Regions from separate parts of the Homo sapiens genome. Here region 2 is linked to region 1. The links come from fine-mapping of genetic effects on gene expression. Tissue or cell type: whole blood. Region 1 holds a variant in brackets; the other region holds the start of a gene. All regions are shown on one strand. Distances are between the middles of the regions.

What was found. PIP is the estimated chance that this variant, and not a neighbour inherited with it, causes the effect.
Region 2: C17orf58 starts here. The variant in region 1 is fine-mapped to the expression of C17orf58 in whole blood (INTERVAL, PIP 0.98).

What each region holds. Positions count from the first base shown.
Region 1 is chr17:67,904,747-67,912,851 of GRCh38, reverse strand. It overlaps BPTF (bromodomain PHD finger transcription factor), which reads right to left. Exons shown (of 28, transcript NM_182641.4): 9 at 8,012-8,105; 10 at 3,091-3,270; 11 at 1-1,975. Among named protein-coding and RNA genes, the nearest start is that of BPTF, 83 kb to the right of the region's middle. The variant T/C (reference allele first, on the strand shown) is at 3,913.
Region 2 is chr17:67,991,710-67,999,807 of GRCh38, reverse strand. It overlaps C17orf58 (chromosome 17 open reading frame 58), which reads left to right and starts at 3,339. Exons shown (of 4, transcript NM_001382359.1): 1 at 3,339-3,685; 2 at 5,824-6,384; 3 at 6,573-6,764; 4 at 7,705-8,098. The coding sequence starts at 3,610. The coding sequence ends at 7,895. RefSeq lists silencers at 4,020-4,109, 5,864-6,123, 6,174-6,253, 6,364-6,423 and an enhancer at 6,664-6,713.

The DNA.
Region 1 (8,105 bases):
ACGGTTTTGCTCTGCTCCTTTACAGAGATGATGTCCACACTGCCGCCTGTGGAGGGTGTGGAAAGCTTGGTCACTGTTGTAGTGGTGGTTGTGACAGTGGATTTTGCACAATTTTCTGTGGAAGAAACCACAGTTTGCTTATCGCCTTTTTCTACCTTGATCACAGTTTTTGATTCTGTGGCCACTGTGGAGGTCATCGTGGTGACTTCTGTGATGACGGTTTTTCTTTTAGATTCTCCATTGACATTTTCATTTTTGTTGATGGGCAGACCATTTTCATCAATAAAGTCATTACTGAGATTAGATTCCTCTTCAGAAGTAATAGGTGATGAAGTAACTTTCTTAACTTCTGAGGTTTCTATTTCCATATCTTCTACCTGATTAACTGAATTGCTTTCTGGACAAGATGCTGAGGGTGTGGTCGTCTGTGTACTGTCAGACTCTTTGGTTGATGGCAGGGTCTCAAGGCTATCTCGGTAGTTACCTTCAGCATCTGAAGAACTCAGCAAATGCGATTTTGTTTCGGAGCTGTTTCTTTCATTAAAATCTTCCATGATGACATCACCATTAATGAATGGCCTTATAGCAGATTCTTTAACAGTCAATGATTTAATATCATTCTCAGGGATTATTTTATTTATATTATTAACCTTTGGTTCAACATTACCACTTACTACTCTACTCTCAGAAATTTCTTTCAAGCATTCACCTTTCAAATATATTTTGGGTTTATTATCTTTTCCATTTATTTGAAATGTACTTGTTCTCTGTCCTTTCTTTTCAGACTCTCGATTTTCATTATTCTTTTTGTCAGTGGTATTTTTTAGCTTTATTTGATCACTACATTTATTAACTGGTCTCTCCTCTAATTTCTTCTGCTGACTTGGTTTTTTACCATTTGCTTCAGTCCCCTTGACCGGCAGCCTGTCCTCACAGTTTCCAGTGGACTCACCAGAAACCAACTCACACTTTAACGGCTCCAAGACTTCAACATCTTGTTCTCGAGTTCTGAACTGTTCAGAAATGCTTTCATTGCTATTCTGAACAATCATATCTTCTTCACTGCTATCCTGAATAGACACGGTATCAGAACTATTTTCCAAAGTGCTATTAGATTCAGAGTCACATCCCAGTTTTCCTTCAAAGTCCATTGCTCTTGACAGAGGTGTGGCATCTCTGTCATTGGTACTTTTAGGCACTGATGAATGTAAAGCACTCTTGGAAGAAGAAACAATGGTGTCACTTTCCTCCTGTATGAGCGGTTTTTTGTTCTTACAGATCAAAGTACCAATATCATCTGCACTGGCTAGTTTAGAGTCATCGATGAAAAAATCATTTCCTTTTGTTTTACTCTTACTGGGTTCCTGGCCTCTACTGGCAAGGTCAGAGACTTTTTCTTCTATGTCATTTTCAATGGAATTTTGTTTCGGACATTTTGTTTCTGGGCTCCGAATGGAGACATCATCTAACACTCGATCTTTTGGATAAAGTTTGTTTGTGGTATGACTAGGATCACTCATTCTAAGAACTGAGGAATCACTTTCTGAACATCCCTGAATCAAGTCCTCAGGTTGATCATTATTTGCATTTGGGCTCTGTTCTTGTCTCATCGAGTCACTCTGACACCCTTCTTTTGCTTTCGTTATTACTGGTGATTCAGAGAGATTTTTTGAAGAATTTGTAGAAGTCTTTCCTATACCCTTAATTCCACCCTCCAACTTGATTTTTTCGAGTCGCTGTTTTTCTTCCAGTGTAAACTGTTTAATTCTCCTTTCAAGAAGTCCATCTAGTTTGGATGATTTTGTTTTCTTTTTGTAACTAGTCCTTAGATGAAAACCCTCACTAACATTGACCACATCTACTTGAGAACTCTCCTGACAATTTACATGTGACTCTGTTTTCATGTCATCGTCTACTTCCATTGGTTCTTCCTTGCAGGGTTTATCACTGTCAGAATCTAAGAGCTCCTTCACATCTGTGAAACAAAGACATTTATATAAATGTAATTTTTACTCTGAAAGGAGGAATTTATATATATATATTTTTTTTTTTGAGATGGAGTCTCACTCTGTTGCCCAGGCTGGAGTGCAGTGGCATGATCTCAGTTCACTGCAACCTCCGCCTCCTGGGTTCAAGCAATTCTCATGCTTCAGCCTCCCAAGTAGCTGGGATTATAGGCATGTGCCACCATGCCTGGCTTATTTTTGAATTTTCAGTAGAGACAGGGTTTCGCAATGTTGGCCAGGCTGGTCTTGAACTCCTGACTTCAGGTGATCCGCCCACCTCAGCCTCCCAAAGTGCTGAGATTACAGGCATGAGCCACCACGCCCAGCCAAAAATATTTTTTTAAAGTATCTCTAGCCACATGCATTATCTAGCTTATCTAGTTTTTTTTTAAAAATGACTTGTTACAAAAGACAATGTAGTTCCTCAAAAGGTTAAACAGAGTTACCATATGATCCAGTAATTCCATTCCTAGGTATATCGCCAAGAGAAGTGAAAACGCATGGCCACAAAAAACTTCTGCATGAATGTTCATAGCAGCATTATTCGTATAGCCAAAAGAGGAAACAGCCCAATGTCCATCAACTGATGAATGGATAACAAAATGTGGCATATCCATACAGAGTATTATTCAGAAACAAAAAGAAAGTACTGATAAATGCTACAACATGGATGAACCTTAAAACCATGCTAAGTGGATGAAGCCAGCCACAAAGGACCACATATTGTCTGATTCCATTTCTATGGACTGTCCAAAATAGGCAAATCCAGAGAGACAGAAAGTAGACCACTAAGCTGGTGGCACTTTCGGGAGGGGTTGGGAAGTAACTGCTAATGGGTATGAATGAGGCTTCTTTTCAAGGTTATGAAAATGTTCTAAGATTGATGTAATAATGGTTGAACTTTGTGAATATACTAAAAGCCACTGAATTTACACTTTAATTGGGTGAATTGTATGGGATATCAATTATGTTTTGATAAAGCTGTTATCAAGAAAACACAACGCAGTACCTTTCCTGTGGTGGGACCCTGATCCAGTGCATTCTTATCACCCCCAGGCTGCCCTCCACAGCTGACTCTCCTTACCTTGGTCCTTCTTCTCAGTAATCTTTGAGATATCCATTTCATTTTGGTCTGCTCCTTTTGCAGCATCTGAACCTTTTACCTCATCTTTTTCAGAATCAGGCTCTATTTTTATTTTTTTTGGACTTCGTGAACATTTTCTTTTATCTGACTCATCCATATTTTCATCCATATTATTTTTGGCTAAAAAGAACCATGTAACGATAATTTACGTTATTTCCAGAGTATTAGCACTTTAATATGTCAAGTTTAGTGAAAATAAACAAGTAATTTCCAGCAAGTTATGTTTCATTTTTTCATTTAAAAAAAAAAAAAAGACAAAGGTCTTATTGAGTATAAGGTACCATATAATCCTATATGCCTGGCTGACCTAAAACACAGAAGGAATGCCTGAACTTCAGACATTTCAGAAAACTTTGTGAACATTTTTGGTGAAATATGATTTAGGAAATTTGTTTTAAAACACTGCAGGATAAAAAAAAAAAGGGGGGGGGGGACCTGGTGCGGTGGCTCATGCCACTGCACTCCAGCCTGGGTGACAGAGTGAGGCTCTGTGTCCAAAAATTAAAAAAAAAACAAAAAACTGTGATTCAGTAACATAGTCAGCTACAAGATAAACATTAATACTATAGGCTGGTGCGGTGGCTCATGCCTGTAATCCCAGCACTTTGAGGGGCCGAGGTGGGTGCATCACCTGAGGTCAGGAGTTTGAGACCAGCCTGGCTAACATGGTGAAACCCGATCTCTACTAAAAATACAAAAATTATCTGGGTGTGGTGGTGCACACCTGTGATCTCAGCTACTCAGGAGGCTGAGGCAGGAGAA[T/C]TGCTTGAACCCAGGAGGCGGAGGTCGCAGTGAGCTGAGGTCACGCCACTGCACTCCAGCCTGGGCGACAGAGTGAGACTCCGTGTCAACAAAAAAAAAAAAAAAAAAAAAAATTGTCAGTGACAACTGAAACAAGAGTGATAAAATTTGGATGGGTGTAGTGGCTTATGCCTGTAATCCCAGCACTTTGGGATGCCAAGGTGGGCGGATCACTTGAGGACAAGGAGTTCAAGACCAGCCTAGCCAACATGGTGAAACCCCGCCTCTATTAAAAATACAAAAATTAGCCAGGCATGGTGGCGTGCAACTGTGATCCCTACTCAGGAGGCTGAGGCAGGAGAATCGCTGGAACCTGGGAGTTGGAGGCTGCAGTGAACTGAGATCGTACCACTGCACTCCAGCCTGGGTGACAGAGTGAGACTCCATCTCAAAAAAAAAAAAAAAAAAAGTGGTCAGTGACAACTGAAACAAATGTGATAAAATTTGGGTGAGTGTGGTGGCTCATGCCTGTAATCCCAGCACTTTGGGAGGCTGAGGCAGGCAGATCACTTGAGGCCAGGAGTTCAACACCAGCCCAACAAGGTGAAACCCCATCTCTACTAAAAATACAAAAATTAGCCAGTCATGGTGGTACGAGCCTGTAGTCCCAGCTACTTGGGAGACTGAAGCAGGAGAATTGCTTCAACCTGGGAGGCAGAGTTTGCAGCGAGCTGAGATGGTGCCACTGCACTCCAGCCTGGCTGACAGAGCAAGACTCTGTCACACACATAAAAAAATAAAATGAAAGAAAACTCGTGTATGAAGGATTATCACAATCTATTTGATCATTCCAGAAAGCCCATATCAGTGGTTTCTAACATACTTTGTGTCACAGAACCCTATTAGAAATGGATAAATGCTATGATCCTCTACCAAGGAAAAAAGTATGTATATAAACTTTTGTAATCTATTTCAATGGTTCTTGGACTCCTTGAAGTTTATATAACAGAATAAAAGACTGAAAAAAAGGATCAAAGGCAATCTGTGGCCTTGTTTACTGCTTACAGTAAAAAGGTATCTCTAAGACAACCAGGGCAAGTGGAATATGGACTGAGAATCAGATTATTAATTTGTTAATTACGGTTAATTTGTTGAGTGTGATAATGACATGATGGTTATGGAAAAATGTCTACGTAGAGATACATATTGAACTTCTGGTGAAACATGATTTCTGGGATTTATTTTAAAACACTGCAGGATTAAAAAAAGTGGTCAGTGACAACTAAACAAAGAGTGATAAAATTTGGCTGGGAGCAGTGACTCACACCTGTAATCCCAGCACTTTGGGAGGCCGAGGCAGGCAGATCACTTGAAGTCAGGAGTTCGAGATCAGCCTGGCCAACATGGCAAAACCCCGTCTCTATTAAAAATACAAAAATTAGCTCGGCGTGGTGGCGGGTACTTGTAATCCCAGCTATTTGGGAGGCTGAGGCAAGAGAATTGATTGAACCCGGGAGGTGGAGGTTGCAGTGAGCTGAGACCATGCCACTGCACTCTAGCCTGGGTGACAGAGCAAAACTCCATCTCAAAAAAAAAAAAAAAGTGATAAACTTTGATAATTGTTGAAGCTGAATGAGTTCATTATTCTCTTTGTATTTGTGTAGTTTTAAATTTCCCATAATAATTACAAAAAAAAAAAAAAAATCAAGCCTCCCAAAACAGAACTACTGTCTAGATGAATATTCTTGGGACTTAAAGGTTTTTTTTTTTTTTTTGGAGACAGTGTCTTGCTCTGTCACCCAGGCTGGAGCACAGTGGGTTCATCTCAGCTCACTGCAGCCTTGAACTCCTGGGCTCAAACGATCCTCCCTCATCAGCCTCCTGAGTAACTGGGAATACAGGTGTGTACCAATATGTCTGGCTAATTTTTGCATTTTTTGTAGAGATGGGGATTTGCCATGTTGCCCAGGCTGTTTCTTGAACTCCTGGGCTCAACTGATCCTCCCCTGCCTTGGCATCCCATCACAGGTGTGAGCCATGGCACCTGGACTTAAAGGCATTTTCCTATTCTTTACCTTCTTCACTTGAACCTAAATATCCCAAGGACCTAGCAAGGTATATCCATTTTTTATTTAAATGAATGATTTCTTCCAGAAAGGTCTGGCTGAAGGGAAGAGAGTGCAAAGAAATCATAATTCTGTCGCGAGCAAGATACTGGTGTGAGAAAATAGATATAAAAAATATATCTATTTTTAATTTAAATGAATGATTTCTTCCAGAAAGGTCTGGCTGAAGAAAGAGAAGAGAGTGCAAAGAAACCGTAATCCTGTCAAGAGCAGGATAGTGGTGAGGTAAGAGAAGAATCACAGAAAAGGGCTTGGGACCTGCCAGCGTTCTATCACTCTGTGCATATGTGGTCTTCACTATGTCACCTGGCACCCTCGTGAAATAATCGGCTCATTGAACTTGAGTTTAAAAACACATGATCTTTTAAAAGAGCAGTTCATCTCTATAGAGTTCGGTGATTCTAAATACTAAAGCTCATTAGCCAGTTGTAAAAACTCAATTAATAGCTTATTTATAGGCCAGGCGCAGTGGTCACACCTGTAATCCCAGCACTTTGGGAGGCCGAGGCGGGCAGATCACAAAGTCAAGAGATTGAGACCACCCTGGCCAACATAGTGAAACCCTGTCTCTATAAAAAATACAAAAATTAGCTGGGCATGGTGGTGTGCACTTTTAGTCCCAGCTACTCGGGAGGCTGAGGCAGGAGAACTGCTTGAACCCAGGAGGCGGAGGTTGCAGTGAGGCCAGATACGCCACTGCACTCCAGCCTGGTGACAGAGCAAGACTCCATTTCAAAAAAACAAAAACAACCCCTCCCCCCAAAAAAAACCTCATTATTTTTTTAAATTATACTTTAGTTCTAGGGTACGTGCGCACAACGTGCAGGTTTGTGACATATGTATACATGTGCCATGTTGGTGTGCTGCACCCATTAACTCTACATTTACATTAGGTATATCTCCTAATGCTATCCCCCAACCTCCCCCAACCCCACGACAGGCCCCGGTGTGTGATGTTCCCCATCCTGTGTCCAAATGTTCTCACTGAAAAACCTCATTTATGTGACAGTGTTTTGGAAGCCTCTATCACTTTCTTTCTGGTTTTCTCTTACTTGCAACAATGCTAAGGTTACTAGATACATGACTCCTCAGTGAATTAGTACTGAATTAAGATTTTTTTTTTTAAGAGATTGAGTCTGGTTCTGTCATCCAGGCTCGAGTGCAACAGCACAATTATAGCTTACTGCAGCCTCAAACTCCTGGCCTCAAGCAATCCTCCTGCCTCAGACCCCCAAGTAGCTGGGACCACAGCCATGTGGCACTACACCTGGCTAATTTTTAAAACGTTTTTGTAGAGATGGGGTCTTGCTATGTTGCCCAGGCTGGCCTTGAACTCCTGGCCTCAAGTGATCCTCCTGCCTCAGCCTCCCAAAGCACTGGGATTATAGGTGTAAGCCACTGTGGCTGGCCTGAATTTTTTTTTTTTTGAGACAGAGTCTTGCTCTGTCACCTAGGCTGGAGTGCAGTGGTGCAATCTTGGTTCACTGCAACCTCTGCCTCCTGGGTTTAAGCCATTCTCCTGCCTCAGCCTCCTCAGTAGCTGGGATCACAGGCGTGTACCAGCACACCCAGCAAATTTTGTATTTTTAGTAGAGACAGGGTTTCACCATGTTAGCCAGGTAGTCTAGAACTCCTGACCTCAAGTAATCCACCTGCCTCAGCCTCCCACAGTGCTGGGATTACAGGCGTGAACCACCGCGCCTGGCTGCCTGGCCTAAATTTAAGATTTTGAAAAATGATAATCAGGCGGCTGAGGCGTCTTCTAAAAAACAAGTTCCATTCTACAATCTTACGGAAATCTGAGACATCAAATTCCTGTGAATAAAGGTAATTTTTAAAGTTTTAGGGTTTTAGTAAACTAAACTAGTAATTCTGCAGTACGAATAAAAATTTCAGAAAAATGTTTTTATCTAAAATATAGTCAAAATACTACAAATTTATAAGAAATATAAAGCAGAAACGATTATGCAGGACATGTAATTTTAATTACTTACTTCCTTCTAACGACTTTCTGTAATTCACATTAGTATTGCCTGGCAATTTAGGAACAAACCTATAAACATGAGTTTTACTAATCCAGCTCCAACC
Region 2 (8,098 bases), 87 kb before region 1:
TGCCCAGGCTGGTCTTGAATTCCTAAACTCAAGTGATCCGCCCGCCTCAACCTTCCAAAGTGCCAGGATTACATGTGTGAGCCACTGCGCCTGGACTTCAAATTCTTTATTATACAACACAGAGTAGATGCTCAATAAATATCTGCTAAGCAGAAACACACACTCAAAATACCAGAAATTATCAAGGAAGGGAATGCCAGTTGGTCTCTTGGGTTCTTCCTCCTGACAGGTATACACACCTATTGCAGAGACAAACACTTAGGCTGTCAGAAACCAATACTGTTAAACATTCCAATCAGGTGACAAACTCCCCAGGCTCTGGTTTATATTACCAAGCACCCTGAGGATAACTTGGCTTCCTCTGTGGCTTGTTTATAGAAAGAGAATGCTACCCAGGCTGACATGAGTTTGCATTTCTGATTTGATTTCTCATTGTAAATTAATAAACTGGCATTCTGGCTACATAGATCAGTCTCTTTGAACTCTTTGTACCTTCCACCATTAGTGTGGTTTCTTTTTTTTCTTCTTCTTCTTTTTTGAGACGAAGTCTCGCTCTTGTCCCCTAGGCTGGAGTGCGATGGTGCGATCTCGGCTCACTGCAACCTCCGCCTCCCGGGTTCAAGCGATTCTCCTGCCTCAGCCTACCAAGTAGCTGGGATTACAGGCACCTGCCACCATGCCTGGCTATTTTTGTATTTTTAGTAGAGACAGGGTTTCACCATGTTGGTCAGGCTGGTCTCAAACTCCTGACCTCAGGTGATCCGCCCACCTCAGCCTCCCAAAGGGCTGAGATTACAGGCGTGAGCCACCGCGCCTGGCCCATTAGTGTGATTTCTAAGGCTCAAGCCAGACACTGCCCAAGACCCAGGACTGGACTCTGGCAGGTTCTTCCAGCTGGTGCCACCCCAGGAGCCTCTGGGAGCCCCTGGGAGCCATCCAGCCTGCTCCCTGCCTCTACATTTCAGGGTGTGGGTTTCAGGGCATTCACAACATTCCTGCAACAGAAGAGTTTCGGGAACACCCCCAATAGGTTCTGGGTGATTTGAATGTAATGGTAAGAAGGTATGTTAGAGATGTGGTTGTAACTGAGAAATCTTAAGCCTAGTGAATTTTATTCCACTTGACTTAAAGAAAGAGCACGTGAAAGAAGGGGATCTGAGGACATCTATAAACAGGGCCCCAAGGGCATGAATTTACTAGTGTTTATCTGGTCTTGTCTAGGGTCTGGAGACCCTGACTCTGGTATACCCAAGCTTTGCAGGGGCTGTAGAGGTTTACTCTTTTGGATGGAGAATATAATTCACTCCTCTAACACCTGAATGAGGGAAGATTAGCTCATCTCCTTAGCTGCAATTTGATTTAATGCTCAACAGGCAAATTTCTTTTCTTTTTTTTCTTTTTCTTTTTCTTTTTTTTTTTTTTTTTTTGAGACAGAGTCCTGTGCTGTTGCCCAGGCTGGAGTGTAGTGGCGCAGTCTTGGCTCACTGCAACTTCTGCCTCCTGGGTTCAAGCGATTCTCCTCCCTCAGCCTCCCAAGTAGCTGGGATTACAGGTGCCCGCCACCATGACTCGCTAATTTTTGTATTTTTAGTAGATATGGGGTTTTACTATGTTGGCCAGGCTGGTCTCGAACTCCTGACCTCGTGATCTGCCCACCTTGGCCTCCCAGAGTGTTGGGATTACAGGTTGAGCCACCGCACCCAGCCAGCAAATTTATTTTCTTTGATTTAATGCTCAACAGGCAAACTTCTTTCCTCCTCCTCCTCCTCTTCCTCCTCTCCTTCTTTTTTTTTTTTTTTTTTTTTTTTGAGACAGAGTCTCACTCTGTCACCCAGGCTGGAGGGCAGGGCAGTGGCGCCACACTGCAAGCTCCGCCTCCCAGGTTCACGCCAGTCTCCTGCCTCAGCCTCCTGAGTAGCTGGGACTACAGGCGCCCGCCACCACGCCCGGCTAATTTTTTGTATTTTCAGTAGAGACGGGGTTTCACTGTGTCAGCCAGGATGGTCTGGATCTCCTGGCCTCGTGATCGACCCACCTTGTCCTCCCAAAGTGCTGGGATTACAGGCGTGAGCCACCACACCTGGCCCTGCTCTCCTTCTTCTTCTTCTTCGTTCTCCTCCTCCTCCTCTTTTTTTTTTTCTTTTTGAGACAAAAGTCTCACTCTATCACCCAGGCTGGAGTGCAATGGCATAGTCTCAGCTCACTGCAACCTTTGCCTCCCAGGTTCAAGCGATTCTCCTGCCTCAGCCTCCTGAGTAGCTGGGACTACAGGTGTGTGCCACCACACCCTGCTAACTTTTTTGTAATTTTAGTAGAGACAGGGTTGCACTAATTTGGCCAGGCTGGTCTTGAACTCCTGACCTCGTGATCCGCCTGCCTTGGCCTCCCAAAATGCTGGGATTACAGGCGTGAGCCACTGTGCCTGGCTCCTCCTCTTTCTTTTCTTTCTTCTTCTTCTTCTTCTTCTTTTTTTTTTTTTTTTTTTTTTGAGACAGGGCCTCTCTCTGTCACCCAGGCTGGAGTGCAGTGGCACAATCTCGGCTCACTGCAACCTCCACCTCCTAGGCTCAAGTGATCCTCCCACCTCAGCCTCCCAAGTGGCTGGGACCACAGATGCGAGCCACCATGCCTGGCTAATTTTTGTATTTTTTGTAGAGACAGGTTCTCTCCATGTTGCTCAGGCTGGTCTTGAACTCCTGAGCTCAAGAGATCCTCCTGTCTCGGGCTCCCAAAGTACTGGGATTACAGGCATGAACCACCCTGCCTGGCCTCAACAGGCAACATTCTGATTAATAATTAGACCTCTGGGCCCGGCGTGGTGGCTCATGCTGTAATCCCAGCACTTTGGGAGGCCAAGGTGGGTGGATCACTTGAGGTCAGGAGTTTGAGACCAGCCTGGCCAACACGGTGAAATCCCGTCTCTGCTAAAAATACAAAAATTAGCCTCGCATGGTGGCATATGCCTGTAATCCCAGCTACTTGAGAGGCTGAGGCACGAGAATCGCTTTAGTCCGGGAGGCAGAGGTTACAATGAGCTGTGATATATAATGAAACAGTTTTACTAAGGAAGCAGTGACTTGGTTTCTCTAGAAATTGCCTAACACACACATTCCAGGATACATTCTCTGTCATCTGGAATCTCCCTTCCACAAACCCACGCTGTCTTAAGCACTATTTTCCTATTTGTTGTTGACCTAATCTAGAAAAAAGCTCCCGTCACTCGTTCTCCCCCACCCAGTCCCTCAGTCCCGAAACACGCTTATTCTCTGCACTTGTCACCCCACCCTTTGCTGCCCCCACCCCAGCGCGCAAACGCACACAGGTTTAAAGTTTAGGCTGTGATGCTCTCCTCGCCCGCAGATCACAGGACAGACATTCCCGGGGACAACTTTGCAAGGCCATGTGCTCGTCCTCCTTAGGAAGGAAGAGGGAGAAATCCCTGCGGCTCGGTTTTGTTCCAATGGTCTGCTCAGCGAGTGATTCCCGTTTCCCCAAAGGCTGCCCCTCATTAGCATGAACGGGGGTGGGGGTGTGGAGAAGGGGTTGGGGGAGAGAAAGCAAGCAAAAGACCAGGCTCACTTTTAGAGCCTGGGAACCCTGTCTGCAAAAATGACAGCTAGAGCTTTCTGGCTCCTCTGTTTGATCGTCGGATCATCCCCCGAAGCACCGGTGGCGGAGAGAAAAAGTAAGATTGGTGTAGTGCGGGGCCCTGGGAGCGGAGCGGGGATCTGTGGGGGGGAGCTGGGAAGGAGGCTCAGTGAAACGTGGGACGAGGAGGGGGGTCAGAGCTCGCAAGAGAGGACACCCCGGGTCTGCGTTCGTCTTATAAAGGAGCAAAGTGTGTCCCCAAGGTTTCGTGTCTCTTGGCAGCCTTTTCGGAAAGAAGCCAATTTAGCTACTGAAATGATCCCGAGCAAGCCGGGCAGGCTGGGGAAAACTTTGCATGTTAAGTAGTTGCTCCATCACGGAGGAGGGAAAGTGTCAAAAGGGGTCGTGGCGCGCCTTTCGGGAGCCGTGCCCGGGCCGGGCTCGCAGGACGCCGCGGGGTCCGCCCCCCTCGACTGGGTGAGCAGGGGCTGCGGGGGGCGCTGTGGAGGGCTGGGGGGAAGCGGGGCCGAAATCCGGCAGCCCCGGGCACTTTGCTCTCCCCGCAGCCCCAGCGCACAACCTTGGGACACCTGAGCCGGGGTTTAACTAACACGCACACACTCTTATACTTCATGCACGAAATGAAATTAAGTTACTCAGCCCGTGAAGAAATGAGGGGTTCTCTGGGGGATCGTGTTTTTGTTTTGCTTTTATTTGGATGTTCTGTCGGCTTCGCTATCTCTGGGAAAAACAGTTTCCGTACCTCACAGGGCAATTTACTCTGGGTTATTTTTCCACATGGAAATTGAATGACTTCAGTGGCATTTAACCCAAATATCAGACAATCTTTCCCATGACAACAGATGGTTATATCAATGGGGAAGCAGTTGTGAGGTCAACAGTTGACAGTCAGGAATTGGATATCCACCAGAACTTTATTCAGCTGTGCATGGCACAACCGTTTAACAACATAATGAGTCAGAATCAACCTCTTTGCAAAAACATGAACTCTAACCAGCTATTATTGCTGGGTGAAAGCTGATTTTAAAGCAGATTATCGATTTGGCAAGACTGATCAACTTTAAATGAAGTGTTGCCAGAGCTGCAAATGGGCAGATCCATCTCTTTAATGCAAGGGGAGAGAAAAATAAAGGCTAGTTCTTGCCTGTTTGGAGGGCACTGGGACCCAGGCAAGCAAGGAGGTGAAATTGTGTAACTGGTATGGAAAGGTGCCCAGCTCCCAAGCTGGCTGAGGTTTACTCACCAACCTGTCTGCAGAACTAGGGAAAATCATTAATAATTTTAAAAATTTGTTTTCATGCCATACCATTTAGGAGTCTTTCCTCCATCATCTAATGGGGAAAAAAATGTAAGCGACGTGTGCTTTTATACTTAACCAGGGGCCTCTCTGCCTCCCAGCCAAGCTTTTAAAACCTTCCTTAGCTGTGGTTTACCAGTAAGTGGTGTCCAAGAAGCCAGATAAAAATCCACTTACAAATGCTCGATTCTGCAGAGACCGGGATGACAGTGTAAACATGGATGGGAAAACCAAATAGTTCTGTTGTCAGGGGCGCTTAAAGAATTAGGAGAACCTGTAATATGAGACCTTTCCCCCTGGGGTTTGCTCTTGGTACTTTCTCAACAAACTGTAAATAGCAAAGAGGCGGATGTTTATATATGTTTTATATATATATATATATATACACACACACACACACACACACACGCACACGCACACATACACACATATACGTATATATTAAAGGAAGGGCAAAAAAGTTTGTTATCTAACCAGTGTTGTAAGACATGTTTAGTCTTAGAGTAAATAGGGGGTTGTAATTTTAAAAGCTATAATCTTAGAGGTCAAGACCCTCGTATCCTTCTTCCTTTGGGGCCTGGGAAGCGCGTGCCCCGCTTGGCCGCGACGCTGCGTCCGGGTTCTCCCTGCTTCACTTCCAGGCCTCCGGGCCTCCCTCCCATCTCTCCTCTTGCAGGTGCCTGCGAAGCCTCCCTTGTCCTCTATCTCCTCTCCCCCTCCCAGAGCCCTTCTTCTGCAGCGCCCCTGCCCCACTAGCGGCCTCCTCCCCTCCTGGCTTCCCTTCCCCTCTCGGCCTCCCGTCTCAGCCTCCCCTTCCCTCTTCTTCCTTCTCGGCTTCCTCGGCTTTCCCCGACGGCCTCCCCTCACTGCTTCTCCTCCCCCACCGCCTTCCCGCCTCTCCTCTTCTCTCCCCACAGCCTCGCCGCCGCACAGCAGAAAGCCGGACTCCCGCGGCTGCCCGAGCGCGGAGGAGACACCGGGGCCCCGCGCGCAGCCACTCCTTGAGGCCCCGCAGCGGCCGCGCGCGGCCGAGGTCGCTCCCGCCGCCCGCGCCTGGCCTGACCCGCGCCGCCGGAAGCCCCCACCGCCGGCCGACAACCAGGCCAGCTTCCGGGAGGCCGCACGCGCGCCCGCTGGCCCGCCGGGCCCGCGCCTGGCGCAAGCCGAGAACCGCGCGTCGCCGCGCCGCGAGCCCGCGTCGGAGGACGCCCCGCGACGCGCGCGCTCACGGGCCCTGCGCTTCCCCGCCGCCCGGCCGCCCGCGCTCGCCACCGAGGGCTCCGCCGGCCACGCCCACCCCAACCGGCCGCGCGCCGCCGCGCTGGCCCCGGGACCCGCGCCCGCGCCGCCGCCGCGCTTCAGCCTCAGCTTCGGCCTCAGCCCGCCGCAGAGGGACGCGGAGCCCGGCGCTGAGCCCTGCGCGCGCGCCTGCCGGTCCGATCTGGACGAACGCGAGGCGTTCTGCGAGAGCGAATTCGGTGAGCCCGGCCGCCGCGCCGCCGCCCCGCCGCCCCGCGAGCCTTTCCGAGCCCCGGAGAATCCGCCCGCGAGATCCCAGGGCGCCTGACCCGTGCGGGCCGTTTCGCGGTTGCTAAAAACCACCTCCTGGGGGACTGGGAGAGGAACTCGGGGTAATGCTCTTCTCCAAACTGTTTTTCGGAAGCAGCGGTGAACGGGATCGTGCACGATGTGGACGTGCTGGGCGCGGGCATCCGGCTGGTGACCCTGCTGGTGGATCGGGACGGGCTGTACAAGATGAACCGCCTGTACCTCACCCCCGACGGCTTCTTCTTCCGAGTCCACATGTTAGCCCTGGACTCCTCCAGCTGCAATAAGCCGTGTCCAGAGTTTAAACCTGGTATTGAAACTGACCTGAATGACGCTGCATATGTACTTTATACCACCGTTTGTAACGTGGGTGCCACAGCCCGGGCTGTAGGTCGCCCAGCCTTTTTTTGGGAGCGATGGGAAACAATGACATGAATGGGATTTAGACGACAGGTATTATTCCGGCCACTCTGTGATTTAAGCCCTGTCAGCCCCCACCCTCAAGGGTGAGAACAGCAAGGGTTGGCACAAAGCGGGCTGTCAATAAATAGATGTTGACAAATGGGGTGGACGACCAAACACCATTGCCAGAAGGGACTGTACAGAACCGAGTTTAGAAAAGCTGCTTTTTTGGGTGTGTATGTGGGGTTGGTAGCGGGGAATACCCACTCCCACATCTTTCTAGACATGTGCTCTGGGAAATCCTGATAGATTGTGATAAGGACCTTTGTTCTGTAATGTGGTCCGGTTACATACTGCTTTTTTTTTTTTTTTTTTTTTTTTTTTGAGATTGAGTCTTGCCCTGTCGCCCAGGCTGGAGTGCAGTGGTTCGATCTCGGCTCACTGCACCCTCCACCTGCCGGGTTCAAGCGATTATCCTGCCTCAGCCTCCCAAGCAGCTGGGGTTACAGGCATGCGCCACCACGCCCTGCCAATTTTTGTATTTTTAGTAGAGACGGGGTTTCACCATGTTGGCCAGGCTGGTCTCAAACTCCTGACCTCAAGTGAGCTGCCCACCTCGGCCTCCCAAAGTGCTGGGATTAAAGGCGTGAGCCACCACACCGGCCTGGTTGGTTATCTTGTAAAGGTGGCTAGGCTGTTTCCACCAGATGCCTGTAGACTCAATATCAGTTTCAACTTGTGCAGCAAGATAATAGATTGCAGCTTAGGCGTTTCTTAAAGGCCTTACATTTTCTGTTTCATGGCATTTAAAAGACACTATGAATTAATGTTCTGGTTATTTTGTCCAGGCAGCAGGTATATTGTGATGGGCCACATCTACCATAAGAGACGGCAGCTCCCTACAGCTCTGCTCCAGGTCCTGAGAGGCCGCCTCCGTCCAGGGGATGGACTGCTAAGGAGCAGCAGCAGCTATGTGAAAAGGTTTAATCGAAAAAGGGAAGGGCAGATTCAAGGTGCAATTCATACCCAATGCATTTGAAACAACCATCCTGGCATTTCTGGACCGCAAGAGACTTGGACGTCGGCAACAAGACATGAAAGGTCTACCTTCATGTAATGGGTCCTCCTTCAGAAGAGAGCCCTCAGCTACTCTGTGAATGACTTGCATAGCTGCAACTGTAATCTCGAAGGTGTCACTTTGTTATTTACAAGATGCTTCTTAAATGGGCTGCTCCTGAGCTC